Homo sapiens: one gene and its partners. The protein of the gene in region 4 purifies or fractionates together with the protein of the main gene of each other region. This does not show direct contact. Each region holds a gene or a part of one and is shown on either strand. Other genes may lie near its edges. The genes, in order: COL11A1, PBXIP1, HTR1E, TMEM87A, TMEM131, TOR3A and KLHL22.

The links.
Region 1: the proteins of TMEM87A (region 4) and COL11A1 purify together in Homo sapiens (co-immunoprecipitation; one large-scale study listed by IntAct). This does not show direct contact.
Region 2: the proteins of TMEM87A (region 4) and PBXIP1 purify together in Homo sapiens (co-immunoprecipitation; one large-scale study listed by IntAct). This does not show direct contact.
Region 3: the proteins of TMEM87A (region 4) and HTR1E purify together in Homo sapiens (co-immunoprecipitation; one large-scale study listed by IntAct). This does not show direct contact.
Region 5: the proteins of TMEM87A (region 4) and TMEM131 purify together in Homo sapiens (affinity purification with mass spectrometry; one large-scale study listed by BioGRID and IntAct). This does not show direct contact.
Region 6: the proteins of TMEM87A (region 4) and TOR3A purify together in Homo sapiens (affinity purification with mass spectrometry; one large-scale study listed by BioGRID and IntAct). This does not show direct contact.
Region 7: the proteins of TMEM87A (region 4) and KLHL22 purify together in Homo sapiens (co-immunoprecipitation; 2 studies listed by BioGRID and IntAct, with this or other methods). This does not show direct contact.

Annotation. Positions count from the first base shown.
Region 1 is NC_000001.11:103,102,023-103,105,522, forward strand, and holds part of COL11A1 (collagen alpha-1(XI) chain isoform A preproprotein), read right to left. Parts: intron 1-3,500. UniProt on the Homo sapiens protein: May play an important role in fibrillogenesis by controlling lateral growth of collagen II fibrils.
Region 2 is NC_000001.11:154,946,100-154,949,599, forward strand, and holds part of PBXIP1 (pre-B-cell leukemia transcription factor-interacting protein 1), read right to left. Parts: intron 2,268-3,500; coding exon 2,034-2,267; intron 1,907-2,033; coding exon 1,883-1,906; intron 1,614-1,882; coding exon 1,543-1,613; intron 1,450-1,542; coding exon 1,318-1,449; intron 705-1,317; coding exon 1-704. UniProt on the Homo sapiens protein: Regulator of pre-B-cell leukemia transcription factors (BPXs) function. Inhibits the binding of PBX1-HOX complex to DNA and blocks the transcriptional activity of E2A-PBX1.
Region 3 is NC_000006.12:86,936,203-86,940,327, forward strand, and holds the start of HTR1E (5-hydroxytryptamine receptor 1E), read left to right. Parts: upstream 1-1,325; 5' UTR 1,326-1,621; exon of another isoform or gene 1,622-1,682; intron 1,683-4,125. UniProt on the Homo sapiens protein: G-protein coupled receptor for 5-hydroxytryptamine (serotonin). Also functions as a receptor for various alkaloids and psychoactive substances.
Region 4 is NC_000015.10:42,263,434-42,266,933, forward strand, and holds part of TMEM87A (transmembrane protein 87A isoform 1 precursor), read right to left. Parts: intron 771-3,500; coding exon 657-770; intron 1-656. UniProt on the Homo sapiens protein: Potential monoatomic ion channel gated by mechanical force, implicated in normal touch sensitivity through the generation of mechanically activated currents.
Region 5 is NC_000002.12:97,810,949-97,814,448, forward strand, and holds part of TMEM131 (transmembrane protein 131 precursor), read right to left. Parts: intron 3,441-3,500; coding exon 3,287-3,440; intron 3,194-3,286; coding exon 3,023-3,193; intron 1,802-3,022; coding exon 1,691-1,801; intron 1,608-1,690; coding exon 1,473-1,607; intron 285-1,472; coding exon 180-284; intron 1-179.
Region 6 is NC_000001.11:179,088,570-179,092,069, reverse strand, and holds part of TOR3A (torsin-3A precursor), read right to left. Parts: intron 1-3,500.
Region 7 is NC_000022.11:20,468,296-20,471,795, forward strand, and holds part of KLHL22 (kelch-like protein 22), read right to left. Parts: intron 3,221-3,500; coding exon 3,055-3,220; intron 1-3,054. UniProt on the Homo sapiens protein: Substrate-specific adapter of a BCR (BTB-CUL3-RBX1) E3 ubiquitin ligase complex required for chromosome alignment and localization of PLK1 at kinetochores.

The DNA of each region.
Region 1 (3,500 bases), on a different chromosome or scaffold from region 4:
ACTGCAACTGATAAATAGATATTACTCACTAAATCACTTTAAAATTGTCTTTCATCTTTGCTACAAGCTAGTATTATTCATGTTGAGTTCTGACACAAGTGAACATATAAAAGAATACACTTACCTATATCAATAAAACCATATTAGGGTTTTGAAGGAAGGAGAAAGAAATACATTAGATGCATTCTAAAACAGAAAGTATTTTAAAATGGAAAAAAAATACCTTTAGGTTTTGAATTAAATTGCAAGAGAATTTAGAAGGAATATGTCCTCATGTAGAAAGTGCGTTAGTGTATACTGAAAGCTACACTGAAAACTGCATTTAAAGTTGACTCTTTAGTGAAAGAACTTAGGGAACATTGCAACTTTTTATAACATCAGCGTTTATCTCTCTTCTTTGCTAAGGAACAAAACTTGAATGGTCAAAAAAGAAAAAGTTTGGTTTCCTCTCACCACTCCCAACTCAGGTCACATTTCCCCAGTATTACATGAGGGAAGTGAAGGAGTAAAAGCAGAAATGCTGACCAACGCTCAGTCCCCACTTGCAGTTGCCTTGAATTCCTAATGATCACGCCATCCATGCTTGATTACTTCTCCAAAAGTAAGGAGAAAATAAAAGTGTATCTAATAAAATTCTGGCTTTTAAATACCTAAACATAATCATTAAAAATTGTATACAATGATGGAGATATCTCAGCATTTTTTAAACTCCATATTTACATAAAATGGTATAGTTAATTGTGAGTATAAAAACTCATGATAAATGCTTTCACAGTATAATCTTCAGGACCCTATGGCCATGTATTGCTTTTCCCTAAAAACAGAAAGACTCTTAATTTGGTGGGAATACTAGTTGAAGACTGGACTTCTAGAAATAAATTTTGAGATAGAAAATCAAAATTTTCCTCCCTTACATCCCTGCAATTTCACATGTGGTAATTAAATTTGTAATAGTTGTTGACAACACAACAGATATCATGGTAGCCTACTAAGAGTGACTACTTCCTATACATTAACTGCCCATTTATGCCTAAGCTAACAGATACTTATGTAATTTCAGATACTTTGACAATCCAAAATAAAAACCTTTATTAGAATTTGCACTACTACGTTCTCTCCTATTTTTTTCTTCAGTTTGCCACTTGTTTAAAAAAAAACTGTTAAACAAACAACACACAAGTGTGTCATAATGATTATCTGACATTAATAAAAGTCATACTATATGTATACATAAAATATATGTCATCCAATCAATTGAAATTAACCTGAAAATATCAGAAATTTGCCATTTTTTATTTGAAATAAATATATAATTTTCTAAGCTTCTTAGAAATTCAAAGTTGGACCTAGTCTTCTATTAACAACTTTAGAGAGCATACAAAACTATGTTCTTAATCCAGCAATGAATAGAGTATTACGCCTTCTACTTTGATGTAATCTTATAAAATGACATAATTAAGAATACAAATGATCAAAAATTACCTTTCTTCAAAGGTAGTAAATAGAGTATTTAAAAAATTCATTCTGTAACTATTTTCTATTTAAATTTCTTTATATAAGACATTTTCACTATATCTACCTTCTCACTAATCTAAACTCTAGCAAATATATGGTCTAATAATTTCAGACTTCTGGAAATAAATATAGCGATAATATATCGAATTCTTTCTCTTTTACTTCCTTGTAATTTCACATATGGTAATTAAATTTGTAATAGTTGTTGATTGCACAACAGATATCATGGTAGTCCATTGAGAGTGAGTACTTCCCATAAATTAAATGTCAATTTTTTCCTGAGCTAAAAGGTACTTACATTAGTTTCAGGTGTTTTGACAATCCAAAATAAAACTTTAATTAGAACTTGCACTACTAAGTTCTCTCCTCTCATTCCATTGTCTCAGACTTCTATTATTTAAAATTCTTTTGATCACCATTACAGATCTTCACTCTACTCAGAAAAACCTTGAATATTACAAGAATATTTTTTATGAGGAAGAGTATTCAGCTGACAACTTTTTGTGTCTTAGTTTCCTCATTTATTGAGAAGGTAAGATTGATTAGCAATTTCTATAATTTCTAGTGCTAGCATTCTCTTTTAAAAATCTTATATAAACACCTTTTTTTAACCTTTTAAAAATTCAGCTTGTATTACACAGAGACTCTCAACCAAACTTGATTTAAATCCTTGTTATCATGAAATAGCCAGCATCTCACTAAATTAATCAGAGTGAAGAGAATTTATCCTAGGAAAAAGCAAATTTTTAGAAAAGAAAGGTGACTCTTTATACAATTTTCTTAGCTAGAAAGCCAACCCATAAATTTGAAAAGAGATGTTTGCTTTGCTGTATTTTAAGGATAACTTAACATGAACAACCATGTGGTTCTATTTTAGTCACAAATTGAAGAAAATAAAAAACCGAAAAAATATTAATTTTTTACCAATTATGTTATGCAAATACATTTCTCACTTTGCTACTGCATAACTTTGTTTAAAACTATACAAATACCTTTTAGAGAATAACTTCTATAAAGTATCCCCTCAGTTAAGTATTAATTATGAAGCAAATTGTCACTTTAAGATATTAAGAAACTTAATTTCAAAACTAATGGACAACTAGGTAAAAGAATCTGTGCCACCTAAACTGAAGCTATGTGTGTAAAGCATGCAGAAAGGTGTTTCTCTTTAGTCTATATTCTTTCTCTATTATAGTCCTGATCAATTTTGAATTTAAAAAACAAATGGAAAGACATAATATTAATGAGTTTAGCAAACACTGCATTTCTTATCAGAAGCATATCTGAGTTTCTGATTTCTGATTAAGGAACCAAATGGACAAATTCGATCTCTTTGCACTGTTGGACTAGCACATACTCTGGAAGCCAGGACCATTTCACCTGCTGATCCTGGGCACTCAAAACTACACTTCTTCAGGGCTCACTATCGATTCCTGACAAGCTTCCAAAGTTCCCAGTTTGATCAGCCTTTTACAAGATACAGTATTGGCTTAACTGCCAAAGGTTAAATGTAATTTTAATTAGTAAAAAGTGATTCAATTAGATTTTTTTTTTTTAGTGCTTCATTATAGCTAAGTCTAACTCTTACTTAAAACCCTTACATAAACTCATCTATCTTAAGATAATCATAGTGTGGTCACTATGAATTCCAGGTAAACCCCACCTCCTGTGAATAGTAAGTAATGGACTAACTGCCAAAGAATATCAATAAATCGCTGAGATACATCATTTACTTTAAAAATAAACATATATATGAAACATAAAATTGAAGTTAATGTAAATAAATATTTATAAAAATCACACTTAACCTTGTTATTCTAAATCACAGCAAGGATTGATTTTTAATGAGTATAATAAATATTTCCAAGTTATAGTTTGATTTTTCAAAGTAAAATAATATGACTAGGTATGAAGTCATAAATTTTCTTTAATCCATTCACTTCCAAGAAATTTCTCTATATTATTTTCTTTAGAGTCTAACTTTG
Region 2 (3,500 bases), on a different chromosome or scaffold from region 4:
TCCACCCTTGGCCTGCCCTCCTTCCACCTTCCTGCTGGCTCCCTGTCCTCCTGACCTCCCCAGTTCTTCTTCCTTTCCCGGCCAGATTCTTCCTTCTTATGTTTCCAGTGCTCAGCCTTCCGGTCTCTCTGCCCATCCCACCACTTTTCCTTTCCACTCCACTCCCTAGAATTCTGGAAGTGGGACTTCTGGTGCCAGGCCTTTGAGGCATTGGCAGAGACCCCAGGGTCCTGGCCCCAGTTCTCCAGGCCCTGCAGTTTCTGGGCCAATCTGTGGCCCAGCTCAGCCAAGCCAGCATGAGCTGGGTCCCCGCGGCTGGCATCCTGCAAGCTCCTCTCCAGATCCTGCTGTACAGACCCCAGCAGCCGTCGCTGCCTCTCTAACTCTTGCCTTAATGCCTGTGCCTCAGCCTCCAGCTGTTCCTTCTGCTTCAGGAAGCTGAGTTCTGGCTCCTGCTCCCTGGGGCCTTGCTCCCTGATGGCCTTGTCACCCTGTGGGCCTCTACCCCCACTGAGGCACACCCCATCTGGGCCCCGGACACAGTCGGCCTCCAGCCCCTGGAGCCGGGCCCGCAGCTGCTGCAGCTCTGACTCCAGAGCCCGCTGGAAGGCTTCGCCCTGCTGCAGAGCCCCCCGGAGCTGGGCATTCTCCTCCTCTAGCCCTTTGGGCTGGTGCATCAGGCTCTGAAGCTCTTCCTTTTGGGCCTAGAATATGGTTTGGGACAAAGGAAGTCACAAAGAGTTCTTGTCAGGATAGCCCCAATGCCTTCTACCCCAATTCCATTCTATTATAGTGGGCAGGTGGCCTGAGCCCGTTTTACAGCCTGGAACACCCAGAGGATTTGGTTTTCATCCTCCACCCCATCTCCATCATGAATGAGACACAGGGATCCCCAAATTCCATCCTGAGCCTCGGCATCTACATCTTTATATAAGCACACACTTCCTAGATTCACCTAAGGATAGCCAATGTGTGGCTCTCACAGTCTTATTTCCTGGAACAGTGTTAACTGATCATGGCACCTGGCATGTTCTTTAAATCCTTTTCCACACAGTGCTCCAGGCAGACCACACCAATCAATCACAGGTGATACCATGTATGTTTCATGTACCATGTGGAACAGGTATGCCAGCCCTGGCCCAAACCTTAGCACAAGGGATGTGAACCAAGAACTGGGAAGACGCCCTGACTATAGTGGGAGAGGGGAGGGTCAGGATGTGTGGGTAAATAGGAAACATTCCTTTTGGGGGAGGATGCTAGGACAGACGCCTGGCCTAGGTGGGTTACCCTAGCCCAGCCCCTCCTGCCTGTGCCCACCTGCAGCTGGGCCTGCAGCAGCCGGATGTCCTGGTTCTCCTTGGCCAGCTTGTCCAGCAGAAGACCCATGTTTTGCAGGCTGGGGACACTGTCAGGAGGCACTGGGGCCTGCAGCTGTTCCCTTAGCCCATCCTGAGGGCAGAAGAGCCTGTTATGCCATGCTACCCCACAGCCCAGGTTCTCCCCAGCCAGGCCCCACCTGCCTCTGGAGACATTCACACATACCTGCCTGTCCCCCACAGCTTCCAGCACCTCGGGGTCTGGGAGGACCTGCCGCTCCACTTCCTCCATGGGCCCTGTGGGAAAGGGAAACCCTGAAACTGGTCCTGAGGCACACAGAGCCCATTCTCCCCACACCTTCCCATTCACACAGCCACCACTCCTGCTCAGGACCCACCCTGTGGCTGAGCGGTTTGGTGAGATAAAGGGCCAAGGGGCACCCTGAACAGCTGACAAGGCCACTAACTGAGAAATAAATGTGAGCCCCCAGCACCCCTACTCCTGACCCACAGAACCAGAGAACACATACAACTCCCCAGCACAAGACAGGCTCCTCCCTACTCACCAGTCTCAGACTCTGAGAGGCCACCTAAGGACAGAGACAGAGGAGTCTGATGAGGCCCTCGGGGAGGGGTGATGTGAGGTAAGGTGAGAACATGGCAGGAAGGCAGGCAGGCATGGAAGCCCAAAGCCCCAGCCTCAGAGGTACCACTCACCTGAGAAGAGGAGGACCCCCAGGCCAAGCAGAACCAGGGCCCCAAGGAGGCACATGTTGAGGGAGATGCCCAGCTCCCCGCCTGCACCCTCACCCCCAGCCTGGTTCTCCACAGCCAGGGGCACCATGGGCTGAGGTGGGCCGGCCTCCCGGCCCCGCCGTCTCCGCAGACCCTCCATGTCCACGTCGGTGTCATCGTCACTGCTGGAGCAGCGGCCCTCCTCCCTGATCCAAGCTAGGGGAAAGGACAGGGACAGGGCAGTGAGGTGACTGGAGAGATGGGGAGACACAGGGAGAGAGGGGAATCAGAGGAAGGCACAGGGAGGGAGGTCGTCAGCCCTGACCCCAGAGAGGGGCACATGAAGACCTTGCCCACTTGCCCACTTCTGCCTGGGCATTGATGACTGTCCCTGCCCAGTCTGGAGGCAGGAGACCAGTGCTGTCAATCTACGAGCTATAAAAGCCATTTTCATCCTGAAAGCATCCTCCTTCCTCAGTGTGCGCTGTGCATCAAACTTCTGCAGCTATTACCACCCTCCTGGGTTGCCTCCAAACTCTCTGGCCACTCCTTCCCATTCTCCCTCCCTGGCTCTTCCCTGATCCTAAAGTCAGTGGTCTCCCTGGCACCATTTCAGGTTCTCTGCTCTTCTCACTGTACACATAGTCACAATTCTCTGACCCACACCACTGACACCCCCCTTCAGCAATGAGTCCTTAGTGTGTAACTCCTCACTTGGCCTCCCAGAGCTCCAAGCCTGTATGTCTGACTGCCTGCTGGCCACTCCCTCTGGGACCAAACATTCAACACACTGCTCTGCAAACTGGTTCTTTTCTGGTGTTTCCCCAATTCAGGGGAAGGCACTGCTTCCACCATCTAGCTAACCTAAGCCCTCCCTCTCCACCTCACATCCAGACAGTTTCACAGTTCTACACTTAAACATCTTGACAGTCCACCCCTGTTCACAACCCACACTGTACCTGCCTTAGTTCAGGTCTGCATCTTCTTTCTTTTTTTTTTAATATTTATTTATTTTTATTTATTTTTATTTTTTGAGACAGGGTCTGGCTCTGTCGTCCAGGCTGGAGTGCAGTGGCACGATCACAACTCACTGTAACCTCCACCTCCCAGGCTCAAGCGATCCTCCCACCTCAGCCTCCTGAGTAGCTGAGACTATAGGCATGCATCATTACACCCGGCTAATTTGTGTGTGTGTGTGTGTATTTTTTTGTAAAGACGGGGTTTTGCCATGTTTCCCAGGCTGGTCTCAAACTCCTGAGCTCAAGTGATCCACCTGCCTGGAACACCCAGAGGATTTGGTTTTCATCCTCCACCCCATCTCCATCATGAATGAGACACAGGGATCCCCAAATTCCATCCTGAGCCTCGGCATCTACATCTTTATATAAGCACACACTTCCTAGATTCACCTAAGGATAGCCAATGTGTGGCTCTCACAGTCTTGTTTCC
Region 3 (4,125 bases), on a different chromosome or scaffold from region 4:
GAGAGGCGCTCTAGAAGGCAGGAGAAGGGCACACAGGCTCGCTTTTTGAACTGAAGAAGGGTTTCATTTGGTTTAGAATTGTCAAACTTCAAAAAATAAATAAATAACTTAAAGTGTTTTTCAAATCAGCCATAAGGCTACAAACCAGAAAGAAAAGTGTGAGGCAGGTGTTTGGGGCAGCTACCCAAGTTGCCTACATGGTTTCCAAGGTCCTTTCAACTCTAAGGTTTGTGTATCAGGCTGTCTACAGATCATACTGTCTCCATAAGATTGTCTAGTTCATTTTATGGCTAGTTTGAACAATCTGATTTTCTTTTTTACAATGGCAGGGGCTCAATCCATGTTAGGCTTCAATGTTGAGTCACCCAAGTTCTCCACAGAGAATAACCAACCAGCCGTAAGGAAGCTTCTTTTAGCAATGCCAGGATTCTGCAAAGTCCCTCCCAGCTTAACTTTTCTGACCTTGCGGCAGCAGAACAACAAAAAGAACAGCCCCTGGCACCCTCAGAAGAGCACAAAGCCCTCTGACAACCTGAGATGGCGCCCAGGTAGACTTCCCTCAAAAAAAAAAAAAATGGCAAGGCTGCTTCAGCAGGTCTTTCAGCCCCAACCACTCCACTCTCCGTCTCCTTTTCTTCACTGCTTTCCCCACCTCTCTTCCCCCCTTCCACTTTGACCCACCCCAATTTTCGTCCACTTCTCCCTCACCCCTTCCTTGTAATCTCTCTCCTTGAGGCATCCTGTGGATGTTGACTGTAATCTCCCCTGGAGGAGGGCTAAGAAATGCACCTCCAGAGGGTCTGTTTGCCATTGGAACCGCGTAGAGAAAGCGTGCAAACCCGTCAACTGCTCCCGCCGTTCCTCTCCCTCCTCAACCCAGGCTCGCTACAGAAGAAGGGAGTAGGGTCTGCCCCCTTGTTGTATCTATTTTCCCCTTCTCCGCCAGGGCTGTGGCCGGCAAGGGGCTCAGGAGGTGAGTCCCTTGCCCACACCTCCAACCCCGCTGGCCCGGTTTATAACATGGACAGCCCTGCCCTCTAGTGTCTGCAACCGGGAGCCCTAAGGCGCCATCAGCTCCAGAATTTCTCTTTTATAACCTAAGCAAGACCTGGAGTACCTCGGAGCTGCGACCTCCAGTTCACAATACCACCTGCCTCACACCCGGGCTCATCTTTTCATCCCACACCCACCACCCCCCTCTCCGTTCACGGTGTCCCGGGAGGCTGCGACCTGCGTAGATGATTTAGCAGACTGCCCCTGCCCATGCTCCTGCTCCTGCTCCTCCTCCTCCTCTTCCCCGCTCTCTCCCTCTCGCCTCCTCTTCCAGTCCAGGCGCCCAGACTCGGCGAAGCGCAGCGCCTGCCACCAGCGGTGCCTCGGGCTGCCCGGCGCGCCGCGCTCCCAGGTTCTGTCTCGCCGCACCCCGGCGGGCACTGGCGCGGGCAAGGACGCTGGCGGGGAGAACGCCCTGGGCTCAACGTACTCCAGAATCGAATGTTGAGAGAAGCAGTGCTCTGATCCAGCTCAGGAGAAAAAGGAGCGGGTTCCGAGTGAGACTTCTGGAGCCAGCTGGACGTGCCGGTTTGCCCAGTGCGGCGCGGCTGCACGCACCGTCCACAAGGTGAGGGGCGCACACCTTCCGGGACGACCTTGGCTTCCCTTCTTACCCCCACCCACTCCAGGTACTCCAGCTCTGGCTTGGGGATGTTTGCCAGCTTTGAGGCGCAAAGGCGGCGGGAGTTGGGATGCGGGGTGTCGGAGGGAGACTGAGGGTCGCCCGGGCACCGTGCCTGCACCCTGGATTATAGTACAGAGAGCATTTCTTGTTCAAACAATTCCTCAAATGTGTGAACCTGAGAATCAACATTGTGTATAACTGTGGTTTGAGCATTTCATCCTGCTTCCTTGCAAAAGGATTAGAGGCAGCTTAAAGATTAAATAGGTATGGAACGGGTGCTGGGGGGGGCCAGGGAAAACTTGAGTAGAAATCACAGGGAGGTGGTGTGCTCCAGGGACCCCGGAAGAACTGTGTGATTTCAAAGCCAGCTGATTAAAAAACCTTTGATTAGAAAGGACTGCACTGTTGCTCCAGCCCTCAGAAAATAATACTGTGCTCAGTCCTGATAAACAAAATGCCCAGGTGTGGAGGTAATGAGGCAGGCTCATTTTTTTTAAAATACAAAATAAATCTTGGAAGTAAGAGTTAAGATGAGAAGTTTGGTCTTAAGCCATCTCCACCCAATACTGCAAGGTGAGAGGCTGACCCCCTACCTAACGAAAAGGAAAGGAAATTGAGTCTAAAGGGAAGTGATTCCAGCTCCTATCACAGGATCATAGTGGTTTTGCATCTATATGTATATTTCTGCCTGTGCCCAGTTTTGGAAGAAAGGACCTTGTATTCAACCCAACGCTGCTTGTCCTTGAGTTAGAAGGATAAGGCAGATGGTGTCAGCATCCCAAGGTGTTTCTTCCTAACCTTTCTTATTGTCCTTCCTTGCCTCCTGCACCAAATCTCTTGGGGAGGGAGCAGCCCAGGAGGAAATAATAGATCGTCAAATGGGTTGGGGGAGCAGTGTTTTTTCCAAAATAATTTAGGCTCATTTTATCATTCTTATGTTTTCCCTCAAAGCTCTAAGCAGTACATCGTCCTAAGCTGAATTTAACATTGCTCCAGAATATATATTTATCATAGTTGTACATTCAGACACAATATGCATAACCTTAAACAGCCAGGATGCACTTGTGAATCAGGGGCTTCCCTTACTTAATCCTGCGCAAGAGAGGCAAAGCAGGCACGTGGGTCTGATTCCCTGTGCGGTCTCCTTCATGAGGAGCATATGTGAAATACCTTTGAAATACAGAGAAGATTGAGACAGCTTTTCTCTTTCTGGTACAGTTGCTTTCCTGCTGAATTAAATGAGATGACCCTGTCTTCAACAAATAAATGAATGGAGGCATTTGAGGCCCATTTAACAAATGCACAAAATATGCCTGCCTCTGTTTTTCCTCCCTTCAGAGCTTTAGCCTCCAGCCCACGGAGTTGTGATGATGAAGCCCACCTCCTAAGTGGGACTCAGCTCAGTTTCTGTATCATATTTAAAACAGAGTATGTTGCTTATTTCTAAAATTGCATAGCACCTCACCACTAACTATTTTGCTGCATAGAGGTATTTCATCACTAAGAGAGCTATATAGAGAAACTCACTCAAATCCTGATTCATCATTGTTGATAGAACTTAACTATTGTGTCATCATCACCTGACATGGGCTGCAGAAGCTCCAAGGATTGCTATAGATCTCAATTGAGACTTCTAGTAACAGAGCTAGAAAGGAGCCTTTTAAAGTGTAGCCATGACTCTGGTCATTAGGTATATGCATGTTCAAATATTCCCTTACGTGCTTGTTTTCGCTTTCATAACAATTTCCAGGGATGAAAACTTAGCAGATTATTTTTATAATGAAGAGTATTCAAATTAACAATGTGTATCCACCAGCTAACAAGTTTTAAATTCCACAGAAATCAGCATCACAAGCATAGTAAAATCAAGTTTTCATTCTTTCCTCTTCTGCCATAATGACTTCATTCAAGGCCTAGTCCCAGACCAAGTGCATGGAAACGATGGCTCATGTCTCTCAACATTTGCCCAAGGGAATGGTGCCTACCTTGCAACTCAGCGTGATGTCACCTTTATTAGCCATTCTGGTGTCTATACAAAATATTTGCTCCCCATTTCTTCTTATCGATGCCTGGTCAGCAACAATCATGTAAATAAGTTTCCATTCTTTTGAGGAAGATAACGAAGTCAGCGTTTTTCAGAAGTGGTGCCTAGGAAGAGACAAAATCCAGGACACACCTCTAGTTCAGGTAACACTGCAATATATTTCAATTTCCTGCTGCGTGATGGGGTTATTATTGAAGAGGGAAGTAAGGTATATCATTCACAGCACATTGTCCCCACCTGGCTCAAGCACCACCCATTCCCCAGGTGGGCTCAATATGCTACCCCCACCACCACCAAGATACCAAGGCTGCAAATGAAAAGTAGATCTCAGCCAGGCATGATGGGTCACACCTGTAATTCCAACACTTTAGGAGGCCAAGGCAGGAGGATCACATGAGCCCAT
Region 4 (3,500 bases):
GTTTGGGATGATAAAAGTACTAGAGATGGGGCTCAGCCCGGTGGCTCACACCTGTAATCCCAGCATTTTGGGAGGCCAAGGTGGGTGGATCACTTCAGGTCAAGAGTTCAAGACCAGCCTGGCTAACATGGTGAAATCCTGTCTCTACAGAAAATACAAAAAAAATTAGCCAGGCGTAATGGTGTGAATCTGTAGCCCTAGCCACTTGGGAGGCTGAGGTGAAAGAATTGCTTAGATCCGGGTGATGGAGACTGCAGTGAGCCGAGATTGTGCCACTGCACTCCAGCCTGGCGGACAGAGCAAGAATCTGCCTTGGGGAAAAAAAAAGTACTGGAGATGGGTCGATGGCTGCACAGCAATGTGAATATATTTAATGCCACTGTATTATACACTTAGAAATGGTTAAAATGGTAAATTTTATGTAGTGTATATTTTACCACAATAAAAAAATGGGGGTTTGCTTTTTACACACAAAGCAAAGTACAACCTCTCTTTGATGAGTATGTATAAGTGGCTGACTATGTACCTATCAGAACATGCTTCCACTTACTTCTGCCAAAAGAAATACTTGAGAAGTCGGAAGTGGATACAGCCAAAAATATATACATTCCAATTTTTGCCTATTCTATTTATCTCCAATCACTTTCAAAGATTACCTGTGTTTTAAAGAGTTCACTGCAGTTCTGGAACAATTTTGATGATGTTTGATATTTCCCAGACAAGCCTCTTTTTTCCTTAAGTTTTTCCAAATACAACTCTACTTCTTCTGCCTGGAAAAAGAGATAATACAGAGTAGTTAACTCACCTTCCAAAAAATAAGATACTAAGAGCACAGCACAACAAACAGTTCACCTGCAGTACAGATACAATTTTGAGTTTGCTATTTTAAAAATGAACAGCATCAGATAAAGGCTCTATATAAAAATATCTAAGAATCAAACACTATCAGACTCAAGGACTATTAGACTCTAGTCTTTGGCTCACAAGGCATAGTTCTACTAACAATTCTGAGTAGACTGGGAAACTGCCAGAGTGTAGAGGGTTTTGTCACATTAAAATATACTTAAAAGATTTACTTGACCAAATTAACAACATCAACAAAAAAATATTCATGCTCATAAGCTAAGATAGAGCAGAAAATTGTTGCAAGCACAGAACTAGGATAATCTTCTTAAAAATGCAAATTGAGAGATAGAAACAGAATGGAAAAGGTCTGAAAAATTCAACTCAGAACTATATATATGTGTGTGTATATATATATATATATTTTTTTTTTAACTTTTATTTTAGGTTCCGGTATACATACGCAACTTTGTTATATAGGTAAACTGAACTCACAGGGAACTGTTTTACAGATTATTTCATCACCCAGGTACTGCCTAGTACTCAAGAGTTATTTTTTCTGATCCTCTCCCTCCTCCCACCCTCCACCCTCAAGTAGGCCCAGTGTCTGCCGTTCCCCTCTTTGTGATCATGTGTTCTCATCATTCAGCTCCCACTTATAAGTGAAAACGTGGTATTTCGCTTTCTGTTCCTGTGTTAGTTTGCTAAGGTTAATGGCCTCCAGCTCCTTCTGTGTTCTTGCAAAGGAAATGATCTCATTCTTTTTTATGGTTGCATATGTATCACATTCTTTTTTATGGCCGCATATGTACCACATTTATCCAGTTTACCATTGATGGGCATTTAGGTTGATTCCATGTCTTTGCTATTGTAAACAGTGCTGCAGTGAACATATATGTGCATATGTCTTTACGGTAGAATGATTTATATTACTTTGGATATATACCCAGTAATGGGATTGCTGGGTCAAATGGTAATTCTGTTTTTAGCTCTTTGAGGAATTGCCACAGTGCTTTCCACAGTGGTTGAACTAATTTACACTCCCACTAACAATGTATAAGCATTCCCTTTTCTCCACAACCTTGCCAGCATCTATTATCCTTTGACTTTCTCATAATAGCCATTCTGATGTGAGATGGTATCTCATTGTGGTTTTGATTTGCATTTCTCTAATAATCAACGATACTGAGCTTTTTTTTTTTCATATGCTTGTTGGCTGTATATCTTCTTTTGAAAAGTGTCTGTTCATGTCCTTTACCCACTTTTCTATGGGGTTGTTTTTTGCATATAAATTTGTTTAAGTTCCTTATAGAGGCTGGATATTAGACCTTTGTTGGATGCATAGTTTGCAAATATTTTCTCCCATTCTGTAGGCTGTCTACTCTATTGATAGTTTCTTTTGCTGTGCAGAAGCTCTTAAACTTAATTAGATCCCATTTGTCAATTTTTGCTTTTGTTGCAATTGCTTTTGGCGCAATTGCTTTTGGCATCTTCATCATGAAATCTTTGCCACTTCCCATGTCCAGAATGGTATTGCCTAGGTTGTCTTCCAGGGTTTTTATAGTTTTGGGTTTTACATTTAAGTCTTTAATCTATCTTGAGTTGATTTTTGAATATGGTGTGAGGAAGGGGTCCAGTTTCAATCTGCATATGGCCAGCACGCTACCGCAACACTATCTACTAAATAGGGAGTCCTTTCCCCATTGCTTGTTTTTTGTCAGCTTTGTTAAATATCAGATGGTTGTAGGTGTGCGGCCTTATTTCTGGGCTGTCTTCTCTGTTTCATTGGTCTTTGTGTCTGTTTTGGTTACTGTAGCCCTGTAGTACAGTTTGAAGTCAGGTAATGTGATGCTTCCAGCTTTATTCTTTGAGCAATATATTTTCAACGCTCAAGTATTCTAGATTATGGCAATTCTCAAAAGTGTGGCCGTTGAACCATAGACAAAACTATTTTCATGGCTGGGCACAATGGCTCACGCCTGTAATCCCAGCACTTTGGGAGACTGAGGCAGGTGGATCACCTGAGGTCAGGAGTTTGAGACCAGCCTGGCCAACATGGCAAAACCCCATCTTTACTAAAAATACAAAAATTAGCCGGGTGTGGTGGCAGACACCTGTAATCCCAGCTACTTGGGAGGCTGAGGCTGGACAATCACTTGAACCCAGGAGGCAGAGGTTGTGGTGAGCTGAGATCGCGCCACTGCACTCCAGCCTGGGTGACAGAGTGAGACTCCATCTCAAAAAAAAAAAAACTATTTTCATAATAATAATAGTATGCTATTTGACTTGTAACGATATTACAAAAGCAATAGTGGGTAAAACTGTTGCCCCTTATCAGGAACTAAGGCAGTGGCATTTAATTCTACTAGCAGTCATATTCTTCATAGTCACAAACTGGCAGTTTTTAAAAATGCCACTTTTATGTAAGAATATCCTAGATAAAGCAGTAAAAATTATTAATGTTATTAAATCTGGACCTTTTGAGTACCTGACTTTTTAAATAATCTAGGTGACAAAATGGAAAGCATGCAAAATACAATAAATTATTGTCTTGAGATAAAGCACTCTGCAATTGCTTTGACTTGTGAGTTAAACTAATCATTTTTTCCACGAAACACCATATTTACTTGAAAGAATGACTGAAAAACTACCATTAC
Region 5 (3,500 bases), on a different chromosome or scaffold from region 4:
AAACTATGAGCCTATGAACATCAATATTCTATAAACTATTCTCGAAAGCTCAGTTTTTAAGGTATGAAACTGGTAAACTGTAACTCTGAGTAAACTTAATTCTTTGGTTTCATAAAGACAAGAAAGGACTGACTTATTCAGAAAAACCCCACTGCCATGAATCCCCATAAAGTCCTTACCTCATAGTCTGTTGTGATCTGGATGGCTCCATCATGAATCCCCTCTAATTTTTTTGCAGTAAGTTTGACTCTGAAGACTGCAAAATAGCCTGAAGCTAATGTTACCTGTAGATAGTAGAAATGGTATCATTCATTAGCCTTGTTAGTTGAAGTTTCCTATTAAAATGGACATGAAGGGTGTAGCGATAAAATGACTAACAAATCCTAACATATACCAGTATGACACTGAATTACCATATCACTGTGTACAAATATCTCAAAATAGTGTCCATCCCTTGATATTTCTCTACTACACTTGTTCCATGGGCCACTGAAAAAGCTGGTTCCTGAAAGAGGGAGGGGTGTGGTCCTCTTGCTAATAAAGCTCCTCACTCTTTACCCATGGACCTGTATGGCCAAAGGGGCTGGAGCAGAGGGACACAGCCTTCCACCAACCTTTCAGGCACACTGGAGCCACAATTGTATACACAGCTGGCTCTGCTTCAAGCTGTGGATGTCACTCTGTAATGTTAATATTCATATCTTCAGGGCAGCTGAGGTCAGATATAACAAAACACCAGACCTATGGCATTCCACGGAAACGTGTTTGTCAACACTCTCTGTGTATAAGGACACTTGCTTTTCCTTTTGTAAAACTGCCCCAAGAAATTCTATTCTAACCTGCAGATGAGATTATCTGATGCTCCTTCTCACAGATTGTGATTCTAATTCTTTTCCCAGTAGGTATAAACTCCAAGTTCCCCTTTCAGTACTGGTGAGTGCTGAAACTAATAAATTTGTTTTCTCTTGTTTAGCGCTCTCTGACAACCAACTGTAACATGTTTATTAGACAGGTAAAAATATGTGGGCAGACTCACAGTGATCAAACAATGTTTGCCTCACTGATACTGAGGCAGTATCTGGACAGACGTATTATTGCATAATTGAAAATATTTTCTACCAATGTTCAGGGCCATCTCTTTTTCCCAGTAAACTCAATGAACACAAGGTTAGTTTAGTACCCATGGGAATCTCTCCTGTAATGACACTTGTGTTACAAAAAGATAATTAAAAATTTGTGTGTTATAGAACTTTTTATGACAAGGCAGAATTAAACCCCTTTGGGTTTCAGTGCCCTCATCATAAAAATAGGGGGTTGAATTACATTACCTATAAGGTCCTTTTAATAGCAAGTAACCAACACTATTATGAACTGCATAAAAATAATAGTGATACATGTAGCATAGCAATGATCTTCCACTTGCAGTTTAGACATCCATCTTACTTTAAGGAGACAATAGAAAGTTTACTTACCGATGATTGATCTGATAAAGAGGATTTTTCAAACTCTGGCAGGCTTGAAATTATTGTAGTTCTATTGCCTCTTTCCACAGCTACAAGTTCTATTGATAAACCGTCTCCTATGATATGCCAACTTTTTATAGCCAACTTTAAAAAAAGATATGAAAATGATTATCACAACACAAGCATAAAATCCTTAAATGTGATTTAGAATAAAAACAGGTTTTTACCTCAATTGGATTGCTGTTTATAATTGCAAATAAAATATTACTTGCTTCTGTAGCACTCAGTACTCCAAAATCTATGAAACGTTCCTCTATTTTGGGGGGCAATACAAAGTACTGGAAAGATATAAAAGAACCAGATTAAAAAAAAGTCACATTGATCTAACAATATTATGAAGAGAAAGTAACTATATTAAAGATGTATTAAAGTTCCCCCCAAAATTAGCTGGGCATGGTGGTGTGCACCTATAATCCCAGCTACTCGGAAGGCTGAGCTCAGGCAGGAGAATCGCTTGAACCCGCAAGCCAAGATTGCACCACTGCACTCCAGCTTGGGAAACACAGCGAGACTCCATCTAAAAAAAAAAAAAATTACAGTTCTATGCTTTCCTATGCTTTTGTATATATGCATAAAACCACACATTTATACGACATAGTTGAGGGCTTTGTATGACGAAAGTCTTTTGAGTAATCAGAAATGAAAACAGCCATGGCTTCTGCTGAGTTGCTATTCTTCCTCTGAGGGCACATGAAAGAGGCAGGAAGCTAAACTACTAAGAGAGGTTTAGTGGAACCCTAGGGGATCGGGCAAAAAGCATGTGGTCTCAGCAAGCATCACCAATGATCACTGAAACAAAATAACTGAAGCAGGAGCGAGACATTACTGAAGGTCCCTCCAGCTCTAAAATTCTAATCGATGCCAACTATTTAAAGGGCTACATTTCTAGATGTCCTAGCTTTCTTTTTATCTTTCCTAACAGTTTTCTCTCTTATCTAAGCTTCTTTCATTGATCACTCTCAAGATAGCTTTGTTTGGAATTTTTCCCCCTGCTTATTTTCTGTACCAGGAGTACCTTCATTGTTTCCTTCTGTGTCATATATAATCTTCCAACTTTGCGTCTTTACTACCTTATTTTCTTCTTTACTATCTGATTCTCTTCTTTGTCCCGATATTTCTTGGTTTTGATCATCTCTTCCCTACGTATATCCCTCTTCACCTTCCTTGTATTATTCTTTTTCTACCTATCATTTTTCTATTTAGTTCTTTTCTATATTCCCCATTATTACAATAGTTTAAAAGCATATCCAAGAGAAAGCAGAATGTGGAAAAGATCTAAGTAGAGACTGTAACTAGAGAAGTCAACTGTATCACAAGAGAGAGCTGCCAGAAAAGGTAAAAACTAGTTACCTGGAAAGGTAAAAACTGACTAGGAGAATTAGATCAATTTGCAGAGCACAAATAATGGCAAACCGTATGTAACACGACTGCCTAATAAGATCTGAAAACATTAAAGGTGGGCAGGGAGTTTAAATGTTAAAGATGGATAATATACTTACATCTAAAAAGCCTGTGTATACCCGCACGGGTAAATGAAATTTAGAAGCATTGGTAATAAGTAAAATGTTGTTATCAATGTGCATGGATGATGTGGAAGGCATAAAAAGCAGGGTAAAAATGTATCCTGATTCATTAGGAAGAATTAAGACTGGTTTGCTGAAGTTGTGAACCTGAGAAATGACAGAAGAGAAAAAAAACAAAGTGTCAGCATCACCTAGTTGGTAGACCAGGAAAATTAAAAGTATGAGGGCTCCTGGACATACTTTAAACATTGTTTTGGCTTCTTCTGGTAGCAACACATCGTGAATGAGGATCGCAAAACTGAAAGTGTTAGTAAGGTAAATTGGCCTTTCCACAGGATCAGCAGGGCTGTCTCGGATGTGAAATAATGTTGCAGCATGATCAAATCCCAAATAACTATTAAAAAAAACAACAAGAACAAAATAAATCATTTTTATTTCCATGTGTTAATTTAAA
Region 6 (3,500 bases), on a different chromosome or scaffold from region 4:
TTCACTGCCAGAATTTACCAGGGGCTGAGAGCTCCCAGCTGGAGGAGCCCGGCAGGAACAAGGGCCATCTGCAGTGCTTGCTCAAGGTCAGTTGCTCAGCCAGGCTTTCCCCGGGGAAGCTGCTCACACCACTCTTCCACTTTCTGACACTGCCCCTGCTGCAGGAAGGCCTTCCAGGCACATGATCTGTGCACACAGGAGCAGCCACAGTTGCATCAGCTGAGGCAAGACCCTGCTGCCAGGGCATTGCCCCATCCTGCATTCCCCACAGGAGGCAGGCAGCACTGTTTACCTTGGCAGGGGCTGGAAGGCAGGATCCAGGGTGCTGTGAAACCCCACAGAGTGATACTCCCTCACCCCATCCTAGGGGCATGGACTCCAGGGCCTTCTCCATTCTGTAAGGTGCTTACATGGGTAAAGAGAGGTCCCATCACATAGGGCAGGAAGCTTGGCCTGTTTATTTCTGTAACCCCAGTGCTATGTGCGTATCAGGCACTCAGCCTTTAGTAAATAAAGGGACATCTCTGCACATGTGTCTGCACCATCTCCACCCTTCTCAATCTCTCCTGTTTTGTCCCATAGCCAAAGTCCCTTTTCTTCCACCACTTTAGAGGCTTTAATCTCACCCACTGACCCATAACCTGGGGCCCCTCTCTACGCGCCGCCCCTCCCATCTTCAGGACCACCACTCTGGCACCAGCGTTCTACCTTTAGACAGACACTGTCTTTCTGGAGCACCTCAATTCCCTTCCACAGCCTCCCAGCTCATCTGCTGACCTGGATCGCTGGGAAGTCTGGAGGGGCCAGAGGGCACCTCTCTCAACCAGCCCTCATCCCCCGTCTCCAGCCCCTGCCAGGGCTGATCTCACCAGCCCTTATCCCTAAGACCCCAAAGGAAGGGGACTTCAGGCCTCACCAGAGAACTGGTTGTTACTGGTAACAAACCCCATGCTAACTGCTACATCTTTCCTAAAGAACAGACATAGACTCAGTCATCTCTTTGAGCCTTAGTGTTCTCATTTATAAAGTCAGGACTGGACCAATCTAAGCTGTCCTCTCATTAGTCAACAGGCAGCCAACAGACACTGGGGGCTGGAGCGCAAGGCCCACCACGACTCCACAAATAATTTCTATTTGTGTAGTTCTGTAATTTTTCAAAGTCCTTTCTATCCTTTTCCTGACAACAGCACAAAGGAAACAGGCTTTAATTACCCTTGTCACTTTACAGCTCCCATGAGAACAGGGCAGCAGCTCCGATCGCAGAGTTCCACGTTCCTGTCCTGCCACGTGAGCCCATTCCTGCAGCCTTCTATACTTGGCAGAAGTGGGCGAAGTAATGTTACTTTCCTGGTGCCCAGTCACCGGCCCCAATTCCCTGGCCCGGATGAAGGACAGGCTCTGAGCACCACACTCAACTCCCTGCTTCAGCTCCCACCTCCTCTCTCCTGCCACCAGGAGGAAGCCAGCAAAGCCACTGGCAACTCACTTCAAACAGCAGGTTTAGGATTTATTTCAGAATTAAACTGCTGCTCTTCCTTCGTGCAGTATGACTTGGTCACTCTAGCAGTTTGAATCAGCTGTGCTTTTCTTTCATGCCCTAGAATCCTTATTACAGTGGATGATTAACTGAAGCTCATTATAGAAATCAAGTCCAGAGACTCCAATATCAACAGTGTGTCTCCTCCCAGCCATCGCTGGACTACCTGAGAACTTGAGGTTGAGAGGCTGCTGCCCTGGACAGCCTGGGCACAGACTATGTCAGCCCAGCCCTCGGCTGGAGGGGGGAACCTCTGGCTCGTAAAGGCTGGGCACAGGCCCACACCAGAGCCACTAGAACCTAAGGCCACATCTTTTTAATGTGTCCTTTACATCCTTGTCAAAGGCTCCTGGGGGACCTCCCCACCCTGCTGTGGCATGGAGGAGTCTGGCAGGCGGCTTTCCCGCAGGCCCCCCCCCCCACCCCGCCCACAACCACATGGCCTCGGACAGTCCACCCAGGCTGGGTCACTGGGGGAAAGGACAGGCAGCTGGAGGGTGGTGCTGTCAGGTCGACGGCCAAAATACTACAAAGGCTATAACATTTGCCTGGAGACTGCAGGGTCACCGGGTCACGTTAGGCAATCACGGCCCAGGTGAGGTTTTCCAAGCTGAGAAGTGGGTGGGAGAGTCTGTGTGGCCGGCACCACCTGAAGCCGGGAGACCCCTGTCTCGGGGAGAGGGAGGAGGAAGACACTCAGCGCAAGGGAGATCCCTGTGGAAGCGAAAGGGAGGCCCGAGGCTGGGTCACCATGCTTTGCTCCGTGCCGTGGGAAGGACTGGCTTCCGCATCGGTGGTTCAGAGGGTCCCCTGGACTGCCCGACCCAGGGCTCAGGTGGAGAAACCACAGAGCACCCAGGTGACTCCTCTGTTCAGGCTCATCTGCATGTTGCAGCCCCCACCTGACTCTCTGTAACAGGAGGAGAGGTGAGCCCGGCTGCCTCCGAAGGTGGGAAATAGTACAGAACGTGGGAATAAGAACTAACTGGAAGAATGTATTGTCCTCACCTCCTGGTTCTGGGCACCCAAATCATGCAAGAGATCTCTCTCTCCTCTTAAAAATCACCCTGGGCGCCCCACTCCCCTCCCACTTCGCAATGCATTTTAAGTCTCCACAGCTTCACCTGCAGACCAGGAAGGGCTTCCCGCCACTACACAGAAATCCCAACCCAGCAACGGCTTAAACCTGTTTCACTTTTTTTTTTTTTTTTGAGATGGAGTCTCTCTCTTGTTGCCCAGGCGGGAGTGCAATGGTGTGATCTCAGCTCACTGCAACCTCTGCCTCCCAGGTTCAAGTGATTCTCCTGCCTCAGCCTCCCGAGTAGCTGGGATTACAGGCACCTGCCACCACACCCAGCTAATTTTTGTATTTTTAGTAGACAGGCCACTGCGCCTGGACCCTGTTTCACTTCCTCTTGTGAATCCACACCGAAACTAGATCTGCCCTCCACAGCTCAACCCTTCACCCCTCCACACTCCCCAAGCTAGGATGAAAATCAGCATCCCCTCACCAACTTCCCCATCCTCACAAAGTGAGCCCTGCAGCTTGGGAAACCCCCCCAGCAAGCAAGTGCTGGCCTGGGGAAGGCGAGGCCGGAGTGGAGTTGGGAAGGGAGCACTCAGTTTGACTCCTACCGAGGCTCGAGCTGTTGTGAAGCCTTCAAATTGGGTCAACAAGGGCCCAAACTTGACTTGTAACAGACACAGGACTCCCCCAGTTGGAGCCTCCGCAAAAAGATGAGGTTGGACAAGTTATTTCTAAGTTGGCTTCACGCAAAGATGTCAGTGAAAGCACAGGAACCTCAGTGCAGTGATTCAGTGACTGGGTCCCGCATGGTAGCGTCACAACTGAACTACAGGTACTCAGAGGAAGCATGGGTTTCTCAACCCGTATACCCTGGATTTTAAGCCAGTGATGACTTCTCATAATCGGAGAAGAAACAGACTTCCAAGGCTGAAGGAA
Region 7 (3,500 bases), on a different chromosome or scaffold from region 4:
AGCAGCTCCTTGAGAGGACCCTGCTGACTCTCCTTTCAGTCCTATTTTTAGAGCAGTGGGCCTTCTGTTCAGTGAAATCTCACAGAGGAACCAGCCTGGGCTCAGGATGTGCAAAAGCCCCATACGAGGCTCACAGAAGGGACTGCATTTGCTTGGGGTAACCCAATAGGACAGTGTTACTGGGAATCAGACTCAGGCCTCTGGGGACACCGTGAAGAATCTGGTCCCAGGCCTACTGCAGGGCACAACACATGGGGGAAGCCTCCAAAAGTCACTAGCTATGTGAACATACATGATTCTACAGGCCTATGGACTTGACATGGTTATGCCAAGTAAAACCTGCTATAAAACAATATTGTGAAGAAGCCTGTTTTTTTTTGTTTGTTTGTTTTTTGTTTTGAGATAAGCTGGCATGTAGTGGTGTGGTGATCACAGCTTACTGAAGCCTCCACCTCCTGGGCTCAAGTGATTCTCCCACCTCAGCCTCCCGAGTAGCTGGAACTACAGGTGCATGCCACCATGCCCGGCTATTTTTAAAGTGCTTCTGTAGAGGTCTCGCTTTGTTGCCCAGGCTGATCTCAAACTCCTGGCCTCAAGCAATCCTCTCACCTTGGCCTCCAAAAGTGCTGGGATTACAGGCATGAACCTCCAAGCCTGGCCCAGAAGCCTGATATGTTAAAAAACTAAGATAGGCTGCTGCCTCTGAGATGACCTCTGAGGCACTGGGGGAGATGACCCAGGGCTGTCGGGAGCACTGGCCAAACCAACAGAGAGAGACTGCAGGCCTCCAAGCTGACTGGTGAGAGAGGGAAAGTGATGTTAGAAAGATGATCTGGTTTCAGTGTGTGTGATCACTGCAGGGAGAAGAAAGAAATGGCAGAAACATACAGATGGAGGCCAGGCAAAAGGGAAGGAAATGGAAACACAGAACAGAGATGGCTACAAGCAATACCGAGAAGGATGACCTGTCCTCACATGGACGCAGGGAATTAAGAAGGTGGACGGGCTCAAGGAGCCACTGAGGTTGAGCCCAGGGAACTGGCAGGATGGTCACAGGACACACAGAGCAGGGGGACTGACAGGGGAGCTCCGGGAGAGTGGCAGGTGTGGAGGAGGAGATAGGACAGCTGGACCTGAGCCATGCTGGGGGAGATGTTTCAGAGGCAGCTGAATCAGGAGTTAACTGCTGCCAGGGTGGAGAATTGGATGAGGGTTCCCAAAGCAACAATGACAGGGATGTGGGGACAGAAGAGATCTCTAAATAAAAGAACAGGGGGAAATTCTTTTGTTGTAAAAGCCAACTCCATCTACTCACCATGCAGGTATGGTGAGACAAGTCAGTCATCTCAGATCAACCCACCCAGCATCCAGGTCCTATCCACCAATCTGAGAACAGGGCACAGGGAGGCTGCCAGGGCCCTGTCACATGGGGTGGCACCTCCACATGCCCCCGAACAGGTTGGTTTTCCTGTGACTTGAGTTGTTTTTTTTTAATTGCGTCAAACCTGCTCTCATGGGAAGAAAGGTCAGAATGATGAACTTAGCATAGCATTTTGTTTCACTTTTAAGAAATGTGGGAAGAGGTGACTGTCAACTCCTATCAGGCCTCTGCCTGATAGCTCAAAGGCACCTGCAGGCCCAGTCCCGTGTAACTGCACCCACACCACTGAGAATAATCATCCAAAACATAAGTCACACTGTCAAAGCCTCAGAAAACTTTTTGAATTCTGCAGGAAAACAAGTACTTAAAGTTCAATAACAGGTTGGGTACAGAGGCTCACACCTGTAATCCCAGAACTTTGGGAAGCCAAGGTGGGAGTATCACCTGAGGCCAGGAGCTTGAGACCAGCCTGGGCAACATAACAAGGCCCCATTCCTATAAAAAAATATATATATATATAATATCAGCTAGGCACAATGGCACGCATCTTTAGTCCCAGCTACTCAGAAGGCTGAGGCGGGAGGACCACTTGAGCCTAGGAGGTGGAGGCTACAGTGAACTATGATCATGCCATTGCATTACAGCCTGGGTAACAGAGTGAGACCCTGTCTTTAAAAAAAAAAAAAAAATAGGCCAGGCGCAGTGGCTCACACCTGTAATCGCAACACTTTGGAAGGCTGAGGTGGATCACTTGAGGCCAGGGGTTCAAGACTAGCCTAAGCAACAAAGCAAGCCTCTATCTCTATAAAAATAATTTAAAAATTAGCCAGGTGTAGTGGCACATGCCTATAGGTCCTAGCTATTTGGGAGGCTGAGGCAGAAGGATTGCTGGAGCCCAGGAGGTTGAGGCTGCAGTGAGCTGTGATCGTGCCACTGCACTCCAGCCTGGGCAAGAGAGAGAGAGCTTGTCTCCAATAAATTGAATGAGTGGATGGATGGATGGGTGGATGGATGGATGGATGGATGGATGGATGGATGCATGCATGGATGGATGGATGGATGGATGGATGCCTGCCACCATGGATGGATGCATGCATGGATGGATGGATAGATGGATGGATGGATGGATGGATGGATGGATGGATGGATGGATGCATGCATGCATGGATGGATGGATGGATGCGTGCATGCATGGATGGATGGATGGATGGACAGACAAATAGATAGATAAAGTTCAGTAACAAAACACATAAGTTTTCAAGAGACTGAAGTGGCCCAGTGAGGGGACAGGCAGGAAGGGCCCTGGCAGCAATGCTGGTGGATGCTCCCCATTGCCAGACCCCAGAGCACACAGGACGTCCACATGCAGCCTCGGGTCAGCCTACCTGCTTATGTGCAGGATGCTTTCAATGACAGGGAGACTCAGACAGTGGGGAAACAACCAGCAATAGAGAAGAGGGCAAAGGCAGAGGCCTGGGGTGTCTAGAGCGGCTCTGCTTGAGCTCCAGGAACAACTCCAGAGTCTTCCCCACTTCATGGCCTTCGTCACTGCTTGGTCTCCTCACATTCCTGACCCATCTTCAAGCCAATGCTAGTGCCCGGCAGGCATCATGGGCATCTCAGGGAACCCCACCTGGGTGTGGGTCTGCCTTGCTAGATGAGACATGCCTCACCTGAAGCTGGCAGGCAGCCACCAGTGTCTCTTGTACATTGCTCAGGCTGAGCTCCAGCTCGGAGGTGTATATGAAATGTAGGATTTGGCACATAGCATTGTAGGACACACCGTGGATCAGGACCTCTTCCTGTTCCATCTCCTTCAATCCCCCAGCAAACATTCCTCTGCAAAGTGAAGACACAAGAAAATGGAGTTATACCAACAGGGACTTAAGCCCATGTTGCCAAGAGTGACAGCATTCAGAGAAGAACCTGGCGCTGGTGGCAGGGCCCTGGTAGTGGGCTGACCCACTCTGTGCTCTGAGTGAACTGTGTGCATGCATGAGCCATCCCACAAAAGGATCCTGACGAAGTCTGGGCAGCCATCCTGGAAATTGTCCTGTTTCCCTTTTCATGGGCCCAAGGAGTCCCATGTGAGCTTCGGGAGGTGAGGCCACAAGCAGCT